2 separate regions of the Homo sapiens genome follow, and region 2 is linked to region 1. Evidence: fine-mapped expression QTL. A gene starts in region 1. The other region holds a variant in brackets. All regions are shown on one strand. Distances are between the middles of the regions.

The links. PIP is the estimated chance that this variant, and not a neighbour inherited with it, causes the effect.
Region 2: its variant is fine-mapped to the expression of LGALS8 in whole blood (TOPMed, PIP 0.97).

The regions. Positions count from the first base shown.
Region 1 is chr1:236,519,733-236,529,074 of GRCh38, reverse strand. LGALS8 (galectin 8) reads right to left here and starts at 5,093. Exons shown (of 10, transcript NM_201544.4): 1 at 5,014-5,093; 2 at 2,960-3,107. The coding sequence starts at 3,004. LGALS8-AS1 (LGALS8 antisense RNA 1) reads left to right here and starts at 4,567. Exons shown (of 1, transcript NR_034040.1): 1 at 4,567-6,006. RefSeq lists a silencer at 4,751-4,800.
Region 2 is chr1:236,627,904-236,637,245 of GRCh38, reverse strand. No RefSeq gene overlaps it. Among named protein-coding and RNA genes, the nearest start is that of HEATR1, 28 kb to the right of the region's middle. The variant G/A (reference allele first, on the strand shown) is at 5,784.

The sequences.
Region 1 (9,342 bases):
TGAACTCCTGGGCTCAAGTGATCCACTAGCCTTGGCCTCCCACAGTGCTGGAATTACAGGCATGAGCCTCTGGACCCAGCCTTAGAGCCTGACTTTTTTAAGTCTTGGAATTCTATCAGTTGAACTAGTCAAAGAAATATACTAAATAGGGAAAAAAATACATAGGCCAGTTGCAATATTTACTTCATCTTTTCCAAGAAAACTTAATGTGGACAGTTGGTCTAACACCAATGTGGACCAAAATATTAGAAATAGGCCAGGCATGGTGGCTCATGCCTGTAATCCCAACACTTTGGGAGGCCGAGGCGGGAGGAGTGCTTGACCAGACTGAGAAACATGGCAAAACTCTGTCTTTACCAAAAAAAATACAAAAATTAGCCAGGCATGGTGGTGCATGCCTGTAGTCCCAGCTATTTACAAGGCTGAGCCCAGGAGGTGGAGGTTGCAGTGGGGTAAGACTGCACCACTCCACTCCAGCCTGGATGACAGAGCGAGCCTCTGTCTTAAAAAAAAAAAAAAAAAAAAAAATTGGAAACATTAATGAAATAAAAATTAAAAAGTGGCGGTGTGTTTATAATGCCTAATAAAGAATACAACAGACAATAAATATATTTACTTATTGAACCTATCAGTAACAAAACAACCATGATTCAAGAAAACAGGTTTTGTGTGTGGGGGGGTTTTTTTTTTTTTGAGATGGAGTCTCGCTCTGTCACCCAGGCTGGAGTGCAGTGGCACCATCTCGGCTCACTGCAACCTCCGCCTCCCAGGTTCAAGTGATTCTCTTGCCTCAGCCTCCCGAGTAGCTGGGATTACAGGAGGCTGCCATCACGCCTGGCTAATTTTTGTATTTTTAAGTAGAGACGGAGTTTCGCCATCTTGGCCAGGCTGGTCTTGAACTCCTGACCTCGTGATCCACCTGCCTCGGCCTCCCAAAGTGCTGGGATTACAGGTGTGAGCCACCATGCCCAGCTGAAAACCGTTTTCCTAAGTCTAGCTTATAAAATATACTAATTGATTATCTTTAAATAACTAAGTTGGCCAGGCATGGTGCCTCACGCCTGTAATCCCAGCACTTTTGGAGGTCAAGGTGGGCACATCACCTGAGGTCAGGAGTTTGAGACTAGGCTGGCCAACACTGTGAAACCCCATATCTACTAAAAACACAAAAATTAGCCGGGCATGGTAGCACGTGCCTGCAGTCCCAGCTACTCAGGAGGCTGAGGCACTAGAATTGCTTGAACCCGGGAGGCAGAAATTGCAGTAAGCCGAGATTGCATCATTTCACTCCAGCCTGGGTGACCAGAGGGAAACTATATCTCAAAAAATTAAAAAAAAAAAATTAATTGAATAAATAAAATAAGTTATTTACAGCCTTTTTTTTTGGAACATTGAAAGGGCAACTAGCTACAAATGAGAGAAATTCAGTGCAATACAGGCCCTTTATACTATAAATATTTTACAGCAGTGAAACGTAAAGAGAGCGCAAAATGTTTTTGCCATTCAGTTCAGTCTACCTCTAACCTTTCCGACTCTTTTGTGAGAACTGATAATAAAACAGAGAATTTTGAAAAGAAAGAAAAAAAAGCTATTTGCCAAAAATATCTCCCTTGGAAATGCATTATCCTCAGAACAGCATCCAGCCCATGCCACAAGACTGAAGGCATTTTCTGCTCTAGCGCAGAACTACTTCTCCAGATCCCCTTCCTCAAGAAATGAAGTCTACTTATTTTTGTTCCACCTCAATAGTTGAGAGTACTGACCCCAGAAACTACAGGAATCAGCAGTATGCTAGAATCAAGATATGCACGAATTTTACCTATAAAATTATCTTCTTTTCTGTGTGAAGGGCAGAAATGAACAGTGTAACCTTTATCCATTCTCCCAGCTTGAGCCAAGATGATACTTCAGACACCCGTGGCAGGCAGCCTAGTTTGTTGTTGTTGTTGTTGTTAAGATCTTTGCAGGAAATCAGTTTACAACCTTGGGATGTTTTTAACTCTAACATGCGCAAAGTCATCTTAAATGTCTCACAAGCTTCCGCTTCAGGAAGTCATCTTTTTTAAACTTACTACCACTGAAAGGCTATTTCTCCTAAAACTGACTTTGCTTGATACAGCAGCGATACCTCATTCTTACACAATGACATTAAAACTTAGGGAAAAAGGAAATACAGCTATAAAGTAAATGACAAAAACTTGAACCCACACACACTAACAAAACTGGTTTAGGGCCTCATTTTAAGGATTCTCACCCTTCCTTTTGCCCAAGAATCTTCTAGGCGGTTTACTAAAAAAGTGGCTGTCCTTTTTCAGACCTCGATTCAGGATTCAGCTTCAGATACGTGGAAACTAGACATTCCTAAAGATTCTCACCACCACATAAAACTAAAACAAGCTCTTTACTGCTCAGGATTACAGGGCAATTTCCAGCAATTACAGTCATTCAGGGATTCTAGGACCTGCCTGAACTGCACGAGACCCTTACTACTTCACACTCTCCATCTCCCCATTGGCTTTTGACATTTTCCCTGCTCAAGGGCCAAGCAGTATTTGAAAGGCTGAGGGAAAGATCGAGACATTAACTTCTCATGGACAGCTCTAATTAAAAAAGAAAATGAAAAACTTGTAGAGTAAGAAATCCATTTTCCTTTAAAAACTACAATTTATGATTAGCTGAGCCTCCTCCCATCACCAAAAGTTGGCATTCCCTCCACTCTACCCAGACGTTCCCTGTTCATAACACTGTTTCATCACGTCATATTATCATTGTGACTTCTTCCTCCACTAGAGGACAAGAGCTGTTTTGTAATCAGCACCCACCACCATCTCTATTACATAGTAGGTGCTTTAAATATGTTCACTGGCTTTTATTCTTGCCCTGTCTCCCAATGGATAATTAATATTCTATTGGATCTGTCCTGGCATAGGTAAAAAGTTATCTTATAGAAATCAGTTACCGGGTTATAGATGATATTCTGTAGGTTGTTTAAGGACAACATCATTCTTTTCCAGCTTCTTGTCGATTGGAGTCTCTTCTGTGTATGACCTAAGATTTTAGGCAAGTTTCATTTAAAGGTTACCTGGATTGAAACTGAGGCACTGGCCCTGTGTAAAGTAAAAATAGAGGAAAAGAAAAGTAAGCATGTAGCATTTTTCTTCATATCCTATTTTAAAATTTAAATTATATATTATGTTACTGATATTTACCAAATAATAGAATATTATTACAATCAACGATCTGCCTCCCATTCTTACCAGTGTGCTCATATACTAAATAATTTTGGATTGTGAGTGTAGGAAATATTGACTTAAAAAATACATCAGTAGAAAATTTCTAACATGGAATTTATTATTAAAAATACTAAAATAGGCCAGGCATGGTGGCTCACACCTGTAATCCCAGCACTTTGGGAGGCCAAGGCGGGTGGATCACCTGAGGTTCAGGAGTTAGAGACCAGCCTGACCAATATGGTGAAATCCCATCCCTACTAAAAATACAAAAATTAGCCAGACGTAGTGGCATGCACCTGTAGTCCCAGCTACTCAGGAGGCTGAGACAGGAGAATTGCTTGAACCTGGGAGACGGAGGTTGAAGTGAGCCGAGATTGTGCCACTGCACTCCAGCCTGGGCAACAGAACGAGACTCCATCTCAAAAAAAAAAAAAAATTTAATTAATTAATGGTAAATACTAATCAAACAGTCCCGTACAATTACCAGAGGTATTCATTTAGATTTTCATTTCCATAAAATGAGAATTACAGTATTCACATCATTGGTTTGTTCTGAGGATTGAGTTAATAAAACAGCGAAAGAGTAAGCGCTATGTTAGCTATTATTATTGTGAATAGAAAGAATTGCTCTTCCTCCTCCAATTTAAACAAATCAAAGTAGGGAAAAATCCAATACTTTTAATACTATTAAGATACGGTTTTCTCTGTTGCTTAAAAAAATAATAATCACAGGGCAGGGGAGTGTTGGAAAGCATCAGCCACATTTTTTAAGATAAAAGCACTCATGGACACTACACTACATTTAATAGCTCCAGGAAAAACTCGACTTTAAGCAGAACTAAAGGGGAAATGAAACCAGAGCTTCCTGTATTTTACTTCCAGCAATTCTGTCATTATACTGCACACCAACAATACACACCGATCAAATCTATCACTTTTTCTTTATTAAGAAAAAAAACTGTATCCCTCTTGGTTTACCACCTAAATATAGCCCCATGTCATTAACTTAATTCGTTAGTCAAAACCTCAAAACTCTGGCTCCGTGACTCAATTCAGGAAGTAAGAACAAGAGCAAAAAGAATGGATGCCGAGTTGCCATACACATGTATAATAACAAGCCAGTGACCCAATTTAAGCCATCTGCTTGCATTAAATCACGCAACCCCCGAAGTATCCCCAGGGACAGGTCCCGCCAGCATGAACACTTCGTATGCATCACAAGCAGCCATCACTTAAGTTTCACGTACGGTCAAAGGAAGTCACATGACTTGCGCTTTGCAATGTTTAACACTGCAGTCAAATGACTCGGCATCCTAAAGAGCGTGTTAGAGGCAGGGAACGCAATGGAGGTCACTCCACTGTCACTACAAATTCCGGGAAGGAAACTTCCCCAGATTCCTCCACTTGGAGGTGGCGCTCGGCCTCAGGCTAGGAGGGAACAGGTGAGAAAGCAGCCCAGGTGGGGTGGGTTTGCAGCGAGGAGACACCCCAGGGCAAACAGCCTGACCCCAGCCAGGGATGTCCAAGAAAGGCCGCGACTCCTGATAATCCCTTATGCCCCGGAGCGCCTCGCCTGCAGAGGCAGCGTCCCCGCCACCCAGCCCCGGCTCTGCCGCGGTGAGGACCGGCGGGTCGGGGTGGACTGGACACTGTCCCACCCATCAAATGGTGATTTAGGAGCCGTGACATCCGAATGCCATCCTCCACTGGCGAGACCCTCAGAGCAGCCACGCCTCTAGCGACTGCCCCGCCACCCGAGGCCGGGGGTCGCGCGACTCACCCAAAGACTGGTGTTTCAGGCGCTCCACGGAGCAGGTTGTTTGTCAGCAGCTAAGTGCCGTCAGGGTTCCCGGCTCTGGCGTCCGTGGGCGGCTACGGGAAGCGACAGGAGTCAGTCCTCGTTCACTTCCCGGCTCGCGCGCCTCACTGCTGTGGTCTCCCCACCCTCCCCGCGCCCCGCCTTCTGTGTCTGGGGCGTCCCTGGCGGCTCTGCTGGGTTTTGGACAGGGACCCGCCGCTGATCGCCACCCAGCTCGGCCTCCTGCACAGCCTCTGGAGCCTTGGACCGCGACTGGCTTGCTGTGGGACGAGCACAGAGGGATAAGGACAAAGAATGTGTCCTGGGTGGATCTGGCTGCCTTTGCCCGGAAGGCGGAGTGGGGTGGGAGGTGGTAGGAAAATGGGAAGGAAAGAAAAGAAAGGTGGGCCGACGTCCACCTGGCTGTTCCAGGCCTCCAGGTCTAGGAGGGAGGGCGCTCGGGGCTGGGACTTTTCAGGACCAGGGTGGTCACCGCACAGGCCCCGCCTGCCTGGACCAAGCGCTGGCCTTCCCGGGGCGCCCAGGTCCACGGGGTCAACGCCAGGGTTTTCTCAGCTTCCTCGTCTGCCTCGGATCCAAGTCCAGACAGTGCCAGAAGAGACTTGGAGGCGCTGCTTTTTGACAGTACACACCTCTGTATGCAGGTGAAACGGTGGGGGAAGGGTTCAGTACGCTGGACTGTGCCCAGCCCAAGCTCCCCATCCGTTAGTGATAACTTGGACTCGCAGCCACTCCGCGTCACTCGCCAGTTATCCTGCGTGTGGGTGTTTTCTCCAAATTGGACACTTAGGGAACAGTTTAAGCAGTATGGAGCACAATTCTGTGCCTATTAGATGCTCTTAAATACCCGACTTCTCAGGGCCCTACACTGACTGATAGTTTGACCTATTGGCTGTAAACACACCAGCCAGAAATACAAATAAAGTTAAACAAAGTCATGTCAGCCACTTGGAATGGCTGGCTGCTTACTGTTTATTTTCTGTTAGGGACCTCAAAGTTCTCATCTTCTCTACTTGGCTTTTATCCACATTTGTTTGGAAAGATATATTTTAGTGTCATTAACGTGGGCTTTCTCCTCCCTGGCTTTTGTTTTCATTATTTTTTGTTTTAATTGAGGAATTCATTACAAGTCCCATAACTGGGAACTCATGTTCTGATTCACTGTTGCTTTTCTCTCCTCCTTACCCATTTTCCAAGCCTGATGCACTTCTCAAGATCCAATCTGAATAGGTGAATTTACCCTTGACATACACTGCCTTGGATTTATAGCTGTCTTTTGGTATGTGTTGTGTGTTTTATCTATCCAACTCGACTGTAGTTTGAGAAAAGGAACTTGTCTTATACAGTCTCCAGTGCATAGTGTAATGCTTTGCATAAAATAGATATCAATGTTAGGTTGAAATGTTAGATTATTGATAAAGTCAGGAGCAATTGAATATCTTCACAATTCTGCCTGAGTCTCCCCCCAGCCCCGCCACTTTGAGACAGGGTTTCCCTCAAGTGATCCTCCCACCTCAGCCCCAGGAGTAGCTGGGACTATAGACGCACACCACTATGCCCAGCTAATTTAAAAATTTTTTTTTGTAGAGACAGGGTCCACTGTGTTGCCCAGGCTGGTCTCAAACTCCTGGGCTCACAATATCTTCCTGCCTTGGCCTCCCACAATGCTGAAATTACAGGCATGAGACACCAAGCTGGGCCCTGAGTCAACCTTGTACTTCTTTACAAAGCTAAAATAAGTTGAAATAAGTACACATAAATGCTGTGTTTCTTTTGTAAGTCATATTTAGGTGCAAACGGGGCTGAGTGAAAGGGCCAGAGAGCAGAGTTAACAAAGAAAATCTGGATTAAAATGTTCATAAATCCTAAGAACTTATTCCTAGAAATATCTCCCTCATTTGGCACTGTTGTTCAATTAGCCCAGTGTGTTATTTTAAATAAGCAAATATTCACTGAATGCCTATCATGGCCAGGCACAGCAGTAAAGAATACTAGCATGCAAAGGACCTCATGGGCCCTTCTAGATAGAGTCCCACATCTCTTACATTATTACTGCAGTATCCTAATCGGTCTCCCTATATTTGCCCTTGCCCCTCTGCAATGTAGTCTCAACACAACAGCCAGAGAAGTCATGACAAAACATAATTCAGATCATGTTAATCCCTTACTAAAACCTACTTTTTTTTTTTTTTGAGGCAGTCTCACTCTGTTGCCCAGGTTGGAGTGGAGTACAGTGTTACATTCTCAGCTCACTGCAGCCTCTGCCTACCGTGTTCAAGTGATTCATGTGCCTCAGCCTCCTGAGTAGCTGGGACTACAGGTGCGCGCCACCATGCCCAGCTAAGTTTTGTATTTTTAGTAGAGATGAGGTTTCACCATGTTGCCCAGGCTAGTCTTGAACTCCTGACCTCAAGTGATCCGCCCGCCTCGGCCTCCTGTAACCTGGGATTGCAGGTGTGAGCCACTGCATCCGGCCAACCGTCTACTAATTTTTGCTCATTCTTTGAGTAAAGATCCAGTTCTTACACGAGCACTTCCTGATCTGCCCGAATCCTCACACACTGTGATTTCATCTCCTACTACTTTCCTTCTCACTTTTTCTGCAGCAGCCACAGCGACTTTGCTATTCTCCTAGCAGGCCTGTCACACTCCCATCCTAAAATCTTTACTCAATATTTCCTTTTCCCTTTTCAAGTCTACTCAAATGTCAGTTCTCAGTGGGGCCCTTCCTGACCACCAATATTTAAAATTGCAAACACTCTCCCAAAACACACTCATACACACTCCCTAGCAACTCTTCCTTGCTTTATTTCTGGCTAACATTTGTCATGCTAATATACTATATAAGGTGCCTTTTTATTTTATGTTACTTCACCCATCATAAGACTATAAACTCCATGAGGGCAAGGAGTTTTGATTGTTCTTGTTTCGAGGAAGCTTATACTCTAGTTGAGGACACATACAGTGATGTGTTTTAGAGAAGATTAAATTGGGAGCACCTGAGTGGCAACCTTAGTTGGGTGACAAGGAAAGTCTCTCAGAGGAGTCAAAGTTTAAGCTGCTGGTGAGTGAAAGAAAGGAAACAGCCATATGAAGATGGTGGGGAAGAGCATTCCAGCCTTAGCGAGCAGCTGCTGCAAAGTCCCTGAGGGTCTTGAGAATGCATTAAATGTGTTCAGGAAACAAAGGCCACCAACCAGTATGGCTGAAGCATGAGGGAAGAATGATATGACATCATGAGATTGGATGGCACCACCTAGGAGAGTAGTGGGAGAAAATCACCTCGGACAGCCCTGGGGAGATAAGACAACGCCAATAAATGAGACTGAGAAGGGACAACCAGGGGAATTTGCTGAGAGTGGTGTCACAGATGCCAAAGAAAGAGAAACAGCCTGTGTGCCAAGTGTGCTGAGAGGCCAAGGAGGACGGAAGTAAGCAATGGGCTTAGGAACATGGATGTCATTGCTGACTCTGACTCTGAAGTGTGTTGAGAAATGGGAGGTGAAGAACTGGTGGAAACCATGACTATAAAGATTTCAGAAAGGTTTGCTGTGAGGAGGAATGGAGAAGCAGCATTATAGCTGAGGAAGGAGTGGAGCAAAGGGCAGATTCAGGTTTTCTCCTGTTGTTTTTTTTTTTTTTTTAAAGAGAAGATACTACATTGGTGACTTTTAGACTTCTTTTTTTTCAAGTGACCTGCCATAAGAATTACATTTCCATTGAGACTTACTACACACATACTTAAAATTACGAAAACAAAAATTTTGACCAGGCACGTTGGCTCACTCCTGTAATCCCAGCACTTTGGGAAGCCGAGGCAGGTGGATCACTTGAGGTCAGGAGTTTGAGACCAGCCTGGCCAATATGGTGAAACCCTGTTTCTACTAAAAATACAATAATTAGCTGGGCCTTGTGGCGCATGCCTGTAATTTCAGCTACTCGGGAGGCTGAGGCATGAGAATCGCTTGAACCCAGAAGGCCGAGGTTGCAGTGAGCTGAGATTGTACCACTGTACTCCAGCCTGGGCAACAGAGTGAAACTGTGTCTAAAAAAAAAAAAAAAAAAAAAAAAAAATTGTACAAAACAATACTCCTGTTATGTGTAAAACAATCTACTTTTTCATTTTAAAAAAATGCTGCTTATAGTCCACTAAAATGTTTGCAAGCCCCACTAATGGGCTGTGAGCTGAAGTTTGAAGAACACTGGGTAGTATGTTGGTGTTAGCTCATACTGGCTTGTGACAGCCATTTTTGTACATAACTTCCATGTTGATACCTTGAAGTTATCCAG
Region 2 (9,342 bases), 110 kb before region 1:
AAAATTAAATTTAATTAATTAATTTTTTTTTATTTCTTTTTGAAACGGAGTCTCGCTCTTGTCACCCAGGCTGGAGTTCAGTGACACAATCTGGGCTCGCTGCAACCTCCACCTCCCAGGTTCAAGCGATTCTCCTGTCTCAACCTCCTGAGTAGCTGGGACTTACAGGAGCCTGCCACCCACACCCGGCTAATTTTTGTATTTTCAGTAGAGACGGGATTTCACTATGTTGGTCTGTCTGGTCTCGAATTCCTGACCTCAGGTGATCCATCCGCCTCGACCTCGTAAAGTGCTGGGATTACAGGCGTGAGCCACCGCGCCCTGCCAAAAATTGAATTTAAACAGTTACTTCTAATAATGATGGAACGGGGCTTTGGTGAAGAAGGCAAATGTGCCACTCAAAATCTTTTTGGTTTGCGTTGTTTTGGAAAAGTTATGCATAGAGGTAGAACTTTTCTTGAAGTTCAGCAAAAGGCTTAAAGGCAAATTTGAAATATTTTCTCAAATATTCTTGATTAAAAAAAAATTAAGGCTGGGCACTGTGGCTCACACCTGTAATCCTAGCACTCTGGGAGGCCGAGGCAGGCAGATTGCTTGAGCTCAGGAGTTTGCGGCCAGCCTGGGCAACATGGCAAAACCCTGTCTCTACTAAAAATACAGAAAATTAGCTGGGTATGGGGGTGTGTGCCTGTAGTCCCAGCTACTTGGGTGGCTGAAACGGGAGATCACGTGAGCCTGGGAGGAAGAGGTTGCAGTGAGCCGAGATCATGCCACTGCACTCCAGCCTGGGCGACAGAGTGAGACCCCCTCTCAAAGAAAAAAAAAAAAAGTTAAAAAGGCAAGCTTACCAGCAAAGGACTAGCCTGCTTTTCTCCAATCGACTCTGTCTTGGCCTTGCCTTGTGGTAGCTATTCTTTCCACCAAAGACCAATAGCACTCTTGTAGGGTTCTTCGGCACTTGGCACCGAGCCTAGGGAGTCACCTTGGTAGATAGAACAAACTATATGCCAGGCCACCTGCCTTGCTGTGTGTCATGCCTCCATGGGCGAGGAGGCTCCTGTCACGTACTGACTGCAGTATGTTTATTTATGCTGGTCACTTATCTTGTCCACAGCCGGGTGATTACAGGGATTCCCTTTGCCTCACTCTGTAACACTGGAGGTGTACACACACACACAAACACACACGCATGCACACATGCATGCTTTCCCTCTTCTTCCCTTGTTCCTTGGCTGTTGCAGAAGCATCACTGCGTAATATCATGTCTGAGTCTAGCCGGGTCTATCTACCACATTACCACCCCCACCACCCTTCGCAGTTCTAGTATCAGTATCTGATGGAAATAGGACCTTCAGTGGAAGAAGGGAGGAGAGAGAAAGAGACTAAGAGAGAGAGAGAGAGACTAAGAGAGAGAGAGAGAGAGAGACTTTCCATCTCCTCCTCCTCACTCCATTCCCACTGCTCCTTTCACCCCAATACTAGTCCATAGTTTTGAGTATGGACGAAAGAGAAGGATGGAAAGACCCTCGTCTTGGTTTCCGCCACTGCGTCTCCCTCCTGTCCCTACCACCTCACTCCCCCAGCATGTCCGTGGTGAGGAGAGTAGGAGGGAGATGGGAAAATGATTGATCTGAAGACAGTGGAGCCCTGAGCTGCCCTCCCTGCTCCTGACCCTCTGAGCTACACGAAGGGATCAACATACCCTTCGCCCTGCCCCATCGGTTCCCATACCCTCTCCATTCCAACAGCTTCTTCCCTAGTCCTTTCCTCTTTAGGATCCCCAATCCTTGCTTCCTACCTCTTCCCAGCCTCCAAGGCTCAATAACCTCTGCCCCTGGCCATAGGATCCTTACTGGTGGTATAGACCTGGGAAGTTTGTAATCTGGGTTGTAGGACTGCAGCTGTGGAGACATAGGTCCTCCACGTCCAGAGTTAGGACTCTGTCAAAGTGGGTTTTGCTCCCATTTCCACAATAGCTATTGAATAAAGTGCAAATTTATGATGATACATAGGCCCGTTACAACCCAGCTCTGTTCTTCCCTCCAGCCACATCTCCTGCTCTCTCTCCTTCTTGTGCCCTCCCTGCATCCAGGCCACTACACCATTTATATTTTTGTTCATGCTAGTTCTGTTATTTTTCAACTTTTTAATTGTGGTAAAATACATATAACAAAAAAGTTACCATCGTAACCTTTTTTTTCTTTTTGAGATGGAGTCTCGCTCTGTCGCCCAGGCTGAAACCTCCACCTTCTGGGTTCAAGTGATTCTCCTGTCTCAGCCTCCTGAGTAGCTGTGACTATAGGCATGCACTACCACACCTGGCTAATTTTTGTATTTTTAGTAGAGACGGGGTTTCGGCATGTTGGCCAGGTTTGTCTCGAACCCCTGACCTCTGGTGATCTGCCCACCTTGGCCTCCCAAAGTGCTGGGATTACAGGCATGAGCCACAGTGCCTGGCCTGCAAATACTACACCACTTTGTATAAAGGACTTGAGCATCTGTGGACTTCAGTATCCATGTGGGTCTTGGGACCATTTCTCTGCAGATACCTAGGGACAACTGTGCCATATTTTGTTCATCCATTCACCTGTCAGTGGGCACTTGCATTTCTTCCACTATGCTATTTCTTTTGTGTGCAATCCTTGCCCTTCACCTCCTTACCCATTTGCTAGAAACTCATTCTTCAAGGAGTAGCTAAAATGTCCTTTGTGGCTCTCCAGGACCTGCTTCTCCCTCTCCCTCCAGGTAGAATTCACTGCACCCCAAGCCCGCGTTTCCATACTTCTCATGTACCCTCCTATTAGTGCATTTATCCCACAGTAGGAAAGTTTTTGTTTATGCTCTTCCCTCCTCTATGCACAATATACATCCACAGGGAGTTATTGGAAAGTCAAAGGACATGTCTGCTTCATTTTAAATTCCTAGTGAACTAGTGTTTGGTAAAATAAGTGTTTGATGAATAGAGGTAAGTATATGACATCATTTATCAGTTCCACAATATAGGCATGTTGTAGATTATTCATTAAATTAAAAAAAAGTATACCTACCATGTGCTGGGAACTATTCTAGATACCACAGATACAGCTGTAAGAGTGACAAGGTACCCACAGTCACGGACACTGCAGGTGGGGGATGGACAAACAAGCAAGCAAACAAATAAATGAATAAGATTATTTCAGAGAGTCTCAAATTCTGTGATCGAAGTACTACAGGGTGATGTGATAGAGTGTTTAGGTGACATACTTCCCATTGAGTGGTGACAGAAGGCCATTCCAAGGAAATATTAGTAGGATTTACTCTGAGGCTGGATAATCAGGAGCCAGTGAATATCTGGGAGGCACCATATTCTAGAGGGGGAACGGCAATTGCACAGCCCAAGGTATGAACAAGATTGTCATGTTTGAGAAACAGAAGAGTCAATGTTACTGGACAAAAGTAAGAAAGGGAATGTTATGGAGTGAATTGTATCCAACCCAAAATTCATATGTTGAAGCCTTAACCTCCAATGTGATGGTATTTAGAGATGGGAGCTTTGGGAGGTGCTTAGGCTTAGATGACGTCATGAGAGTGGGGCTCTTGTTTTTTTGTTTGTTTGTTTTTGAGACAGAGTCTCGCTCTGTTGCCCAGGCTGGAGTGCAGTGGCACGATCTTGGCTCACTGCAACCTCCGCCTCCCGGGTTCAAACGATTCTTCTGCCTCAGCCTCCCAAGTAGCTGGGACTACAGGTGTGCACCACCACGCTCGGCTAATTTTTGTATTTTTAGTAGAGACAGGGTGTCACCATATTAGCCAGGCTGGTCTTGAACTCCTGACCTTGTGATCCTCCCACCTCGGCCTCCCAAAGTGCTGAGATTACAGGTGTGAGCCACCGCACTTGGCCTGAGGGTGGGGCTTTCATGATGCAATTAGTGCCCTTATAAGAAAAGACATCAGGGCTGGGCATGGTGGAGTCTCACTCTGTCGCCCAGGCTGGAGTGTGACTCTGTCTGAAAGAAAAAGAAAGAGAAAGAAAGAAAGAAAGAAAGAAAGAAAGAAAGAAAGAAAGAAAGAAAGAAAGAAAGAAAGAAAGAAAGAAAGAAAGAAAGACAGAAAGAAAGAGAGAGAGAGAGAGAGAGAGGAAGGAAGGAAGGAAGGAAGAAGGAAAGAAGGAAAGAAAGAAAGAAGAAAGAAGGAAGGAAGGGGAGGGGAGGGGAGGCCAGGGGAGGGGAAAGAAAGAAAGAAAGAAAGAAGGAAAGAGAGAGAAAGAGAAAGAAAGAAAAAGAAAGGAAGAAAGAAAGAAAGAAGGAAAGAAAGAAAGAAGAAAGAAAAGAAAGAAAGAAAGAAAGCAGGAAAGAAAGAAAGAAAGAAAGAAAGAAAGAAAGAAAGAAAGAAAGAAAGAAAGAAAGAAAGAAAGAAGAAAGAAAGAGAAAGAAAGAAAAAGAAAGGACATCAGGGAGTGGCCAGCAGGAAGAAACCAACCATTGCTGGAAACTTAATATTGGACTTTCCAGCCTCTAGAACTGTGAGAAAGTAAAATTCTGTGTTTAAGCCACCCAGTCTATGGTATTTTGTTATGAAACCCCAAGCTGGTTCAGGGAACACCAGATGAGGTAAAAATAGCAGGCAGGAGAACAGATCTTTTAGGATTGTGAATTGTAATGTGGAACATGAAAACTTCATCATCTTCTGTGTGCTGGCTAGTGTCAGTTATCCTTTGCTGTATAAAAATCACCCCCAAAATTAGTGATTTGAAACAACTGTCCCCATTTATTTACTCATGATTTTGCAGTTGCTCAGGACTTGGTGGGGATACCTTGACTCTGCTTCTCGCAGTGTTGACTGAGGTCATACTTGCAGCTACATTCAGCTGGCAGCTTCACTGGGGCTGGAACAGCAAAGACAGCTTCCCTAACATACCTGGCACCTCAGCCAAGGTGGCTGCAATGGCTGGAGGCTCACTGGGCCTTCCACTTCTGTGTGGTTTCTCGTGATTTCGTAGTCTATCCTGAACTCCTTTTCACGGCAACTGGAATGCAAAAAGATGAAAACAGAAGCTACAATGTCTGGGAACAGAAGTCCTAGAATGTCACTTCTACTACACCTATTACTCACTATTAGTCAAAATAAACTCCTCTCCCAATACTTCTCAAAGACTCATCCAATTATGGCGCATGAGTTGAAGTCCAGTTTCTTGTGATCTGCATCAGGTCCAAATGTAGAAAAGTCTCCTCAAAGGTGAGGCCTCTGGCTCTCGATACCTGCGAATTACCTGAGTATCTACCTCTCCTCCACCCAACATCTAAGGGTGAGACAGGGGTAGCTGCTATCTCTGGTCCATAGCAGTGACTGTTTCATAGCAGTTAGGAAATCAACCAAACACGTATCATGAGTTCCCTTGACTCCAGAGTCAAGGGCAGGAAGACACAGAAAGCTCCTCGCTTAGGGTCCTTGTTTACAGGTTACTGCTCTCTGGCTTCGGTTTCCTGATCTAGTATTCTCCATTGTTCTTGGTTCCACCATCTGAGCTCTTGAGTCTGCCCTGTGTTGCTGCCCCTTTCCATAGTGACTGAGTAATGTTTGCACCTGGTTCTGCTTTTGACCAAAGGGAGCGGGAGTCCCAAAGTCTCTTTGCATTTTGAACTCTTTCTGCTTCCCTTGAGTCCAACTTGGTACAACTCCTTTAAAGTCTTTTATCAAATTCCAATCCATTTCCATAAACAAAAGCCACAATCACAATTATCTTCAAGATAAGCTCCTTTCCACTTAGGGCTACAAGTCAGGGTACTGTGGAACAATGTTCCAAA[G/A]GTTCTCAGAAGCATAGGAGAAAGGATCTGTGAAGCCACTTTAAATTTTTATGTGACCTTGACAAAGAGTCTTATAGGGACACTTTGTTTTAATCTTGCTCCAAGGCCCTGTTACACTAGTCGCATCCTGGATTTGATCTTTTCCCCGAGACTATTTCTTACTTCAAGAATCTTTTTTCAGGGCCCAGTGCAGTGGGTGGCTCACGCCTGTAATCCCAGCACTGTGGGAGGCCGAGGCAGGCAATCGCATGAGGTCAGGAGCTCCAGACCAGCCTGGCCAACATGGTGAAACCCCGTCTCTACTACAAATACAAAAATTAGCAGGGCCTGGTGGTATGTGCCTATAATGCCAGCTACTCGGGAGGCTGAGGCACAAAAATTGCTTGAACTGGGGAGGTGGAGGTTGTAGTGAGCCAAAATCACGCCACTGCGCTCCAGCCTGGATGACAGAGCAAGACTCTGTCTCAAAAAAAAAAAAAAAAAAAAAAAAGCAAACAAACAATAAAACCTTTTTCCAGCTGGAGATGCTGAGAATGAGAAAGTGGTTTTATTTTCCAAACCAATAAATCCTGGGTTGGAAATACATCCTCTAACGTTTGCTTGAAAACTGCACAGTTCCTTCTTTAGCTCATCTCTCTCTTCCCTTACCTTATCACAGGCAGTGAGTTAAGATAAATGAATTGGCACTTTTCATAATTTGCTGGAAAATCTCCTTGGCAAACCCACAAGTACACGGGCCCATGTTTAACTTAGCATGTTAACTTAGTGCCACCTATAGCGCTTGTGGCCCTTCCTCCAGCTTCCCATGGAGTTTCTTCATTGTTCTTCCAGCCTCCACTTCTGTATTCCTATCACTTCTCTGGCCTCCATCTCCCTGATCCTATAGCCAATGACACACATATTAGGTTTTTGTTATATGACAGCACCCAACTTTGGGGTACCCATTTTGGTACCAGCTGCCATTATTTTTTCAAGAGATAGTGTCTCACTCAATCAGCTGGAGTGCAGAGGCATGATCATAGCTCACTGTAACCTCAAACTCCTGGACTCAAGTGACCCTCCCACCTCAGTCTCCCAAGTACAGGTGTGCACCACCATGCCAAGCTAATTTATTTATTTATTTTTGTTCCCCAGTCTGATCTCGAACTCCTGGGCTCAAGTGATCCTTCCTGCCTCAGTCTCCCAAAGCAGTATCAGTTATCTATCAATGCATAACAAACCAATCCAGAACTTAAAACAAAAATCACTTATTTTTTCTCACAGTTCTGTGGGGTTGAGTGGGCAACTCTTCCACTCTACCAGTTGTTGGCCAAGGCTCACCCACGTGACTGAATTCAGCAGGTGGCTGGGCTTTTCTGGAAGAAAGGTCTCTCTCATACATCTGGGACCTTGATTCAATCTTCAGCAGGGGTGCCTTGTTTCTCCTCCTCATGGCCTCTCTCTCCATGTGGTATTACATCCTCCATGTCCTCTCCACGTGGCCTCTTTTTCCAGCAGAATAGCATGGACTTCCTTACAGTATGACCACCAGTTTCCAAGGAAGCAAAGCAAAAACTGCCAGGTATAGATAGCATCATTGCTATTTTCACTCTACTGTTCAAAGTGCCTCCCAGGGCCAACATTCTTTCAAGGAGGGGGAAACTAGACTCCATCTCCTGGAGTATGCACAGATAGGAGAAATTGTCAGCAGTCATATTTGTGGGACAAACTACTCTGTCGGGTCCAGCCCACTCTCTGCATCTCTTCTCTCTCCTCGCGTGATGCAGATTTGTCCTACAGAATTTTGAACATTTCTAGCCCAGGACTCAGGAAGTCACTTGAGTGCCTTTTAATATGTGTTCAGCTCTGACTTTGACCCCTGGTTCACATTAGCGGGTTTCTATATTGTTCCTGAGACCCAAAGCTTGAACTCTATACTGCAGGGGCAGTAACTAAATCTCCTTCTTGCACCTGCTGAGGTAAAATGACTATTATTATTAATAGCAAATATTTGTTAAACTTGTTCTCTGTACCAAGCAAACCTGGAGAGTTTCATATTACCTTCATTTTGCAAATGAGAAAACTGAGATCCAGAGAGGTTGGTTAGGTGGCTCATGGTAGTAAGTGGCAGACTGAGCCCGACCAGCTCAGATGGTCTGGGCTAAAACCTGTCTATGTAACTCCCAAACTCTTCCTGGGTTGTGGTATTGCATAACTCTCATCAGTCTCCCTTACCTGAAGTGGCTTCTAACTCCTGACCCCTGCTTGGATTTTGGGTCATGCTACATGCCAAGATGCTTCGTACTGCTGATCCCATGACTTCTTGCCTTTTAAAAAAATTAAGTGCATATTCTACTATAATACAGCATACATACAGAAAAGTATATATAGTTTATAGCCTGATGGTTTTCACAAAATGAACATACCTGTGTATTTACTGCCCAAATCAAGAAACAGAACATTCCCGTGACCCCAGAAACCCTTATGCCTCCTCCCAGTAACTACCTATCTCTGCTGCACAAATTATTCCCTTCATTATAGATTAATTCTTACTGGGTTTGAATTTTATATAGATAGAATCGTGCTATTTGTATTCCTTTGCATCTGACATCTATTGCTTGATATTAGGCTTGTAAGAGTCTGTCATATTGCTGTGCGTTGCAATGGTTTGTTTGTTCTCATTGCTGAATAGTATTCCACTGTATGACAGTTTCACAATGTATATGTTTATTCTTCTGTTGATAAACATCTGCATCGGAAGCAGATTATGCTATTACAAAATATGCTGCTATGGACATTCTCAAACATGCCTTTCGGTGTTCGTACGCACACATTTCTCAACATTTCTGTTGAGTATATAGCATACCTGAGAGTTTCAGTAATGAGAAAACAATAATTTTACAGAATATTTGTACCAATTTGTACTTCCACCAGCAGTATAACAAAATGTCAGTTGTTCCACATCTTTACCAACATTTGGTATTGCCTGTCTTTTTAATATTAGCCATTCTGGTGGGTGTGTAGTGAAATCTCACTGTGGCTTTCATTTGACTGGTTACAAATGCTGTGGAGAACATACTTATATGTTTATTAGACACATTCAGATATTGTCTCTTTAAAAGTGCTTGTTCAAGTCTTTTGTTATTTTTTTCTATTGAATGTCTATTTTTTCTTTTTGATTTGAAGCAGTTCCTTAAATATTCTGCATATGAGTCATTTGTCAGATACATATGAATTACAAATATTTTCTCTGTTTTGCAGTTACTATTGCACTAATGATGTTTTTGGTAAACAGCCCATCACTACTCCTACATTGCCAGTTGCTAGACTCTGCTTCCCAATAGGGTCTCCCCATTTCCTCTGGGCCCTCTCTAATGCTGACTGCTGCCTGTAATCTTGCCTTCAGGGCAATGTCCCCTGCCGGCTGCACTGAACACCTTTAGAATCCAGTGCACCTGCTCCTGTCCTTCCAGGGCTGGTCCTGTCCTAGTGGGCAGATCTGGTTCCAGGTTCTGGCACCTTCCAGTCTCCTCAGGCCTCCCTGCAGTTAACTAGCTGTGCCCAATCGTGTTCTGAAAAT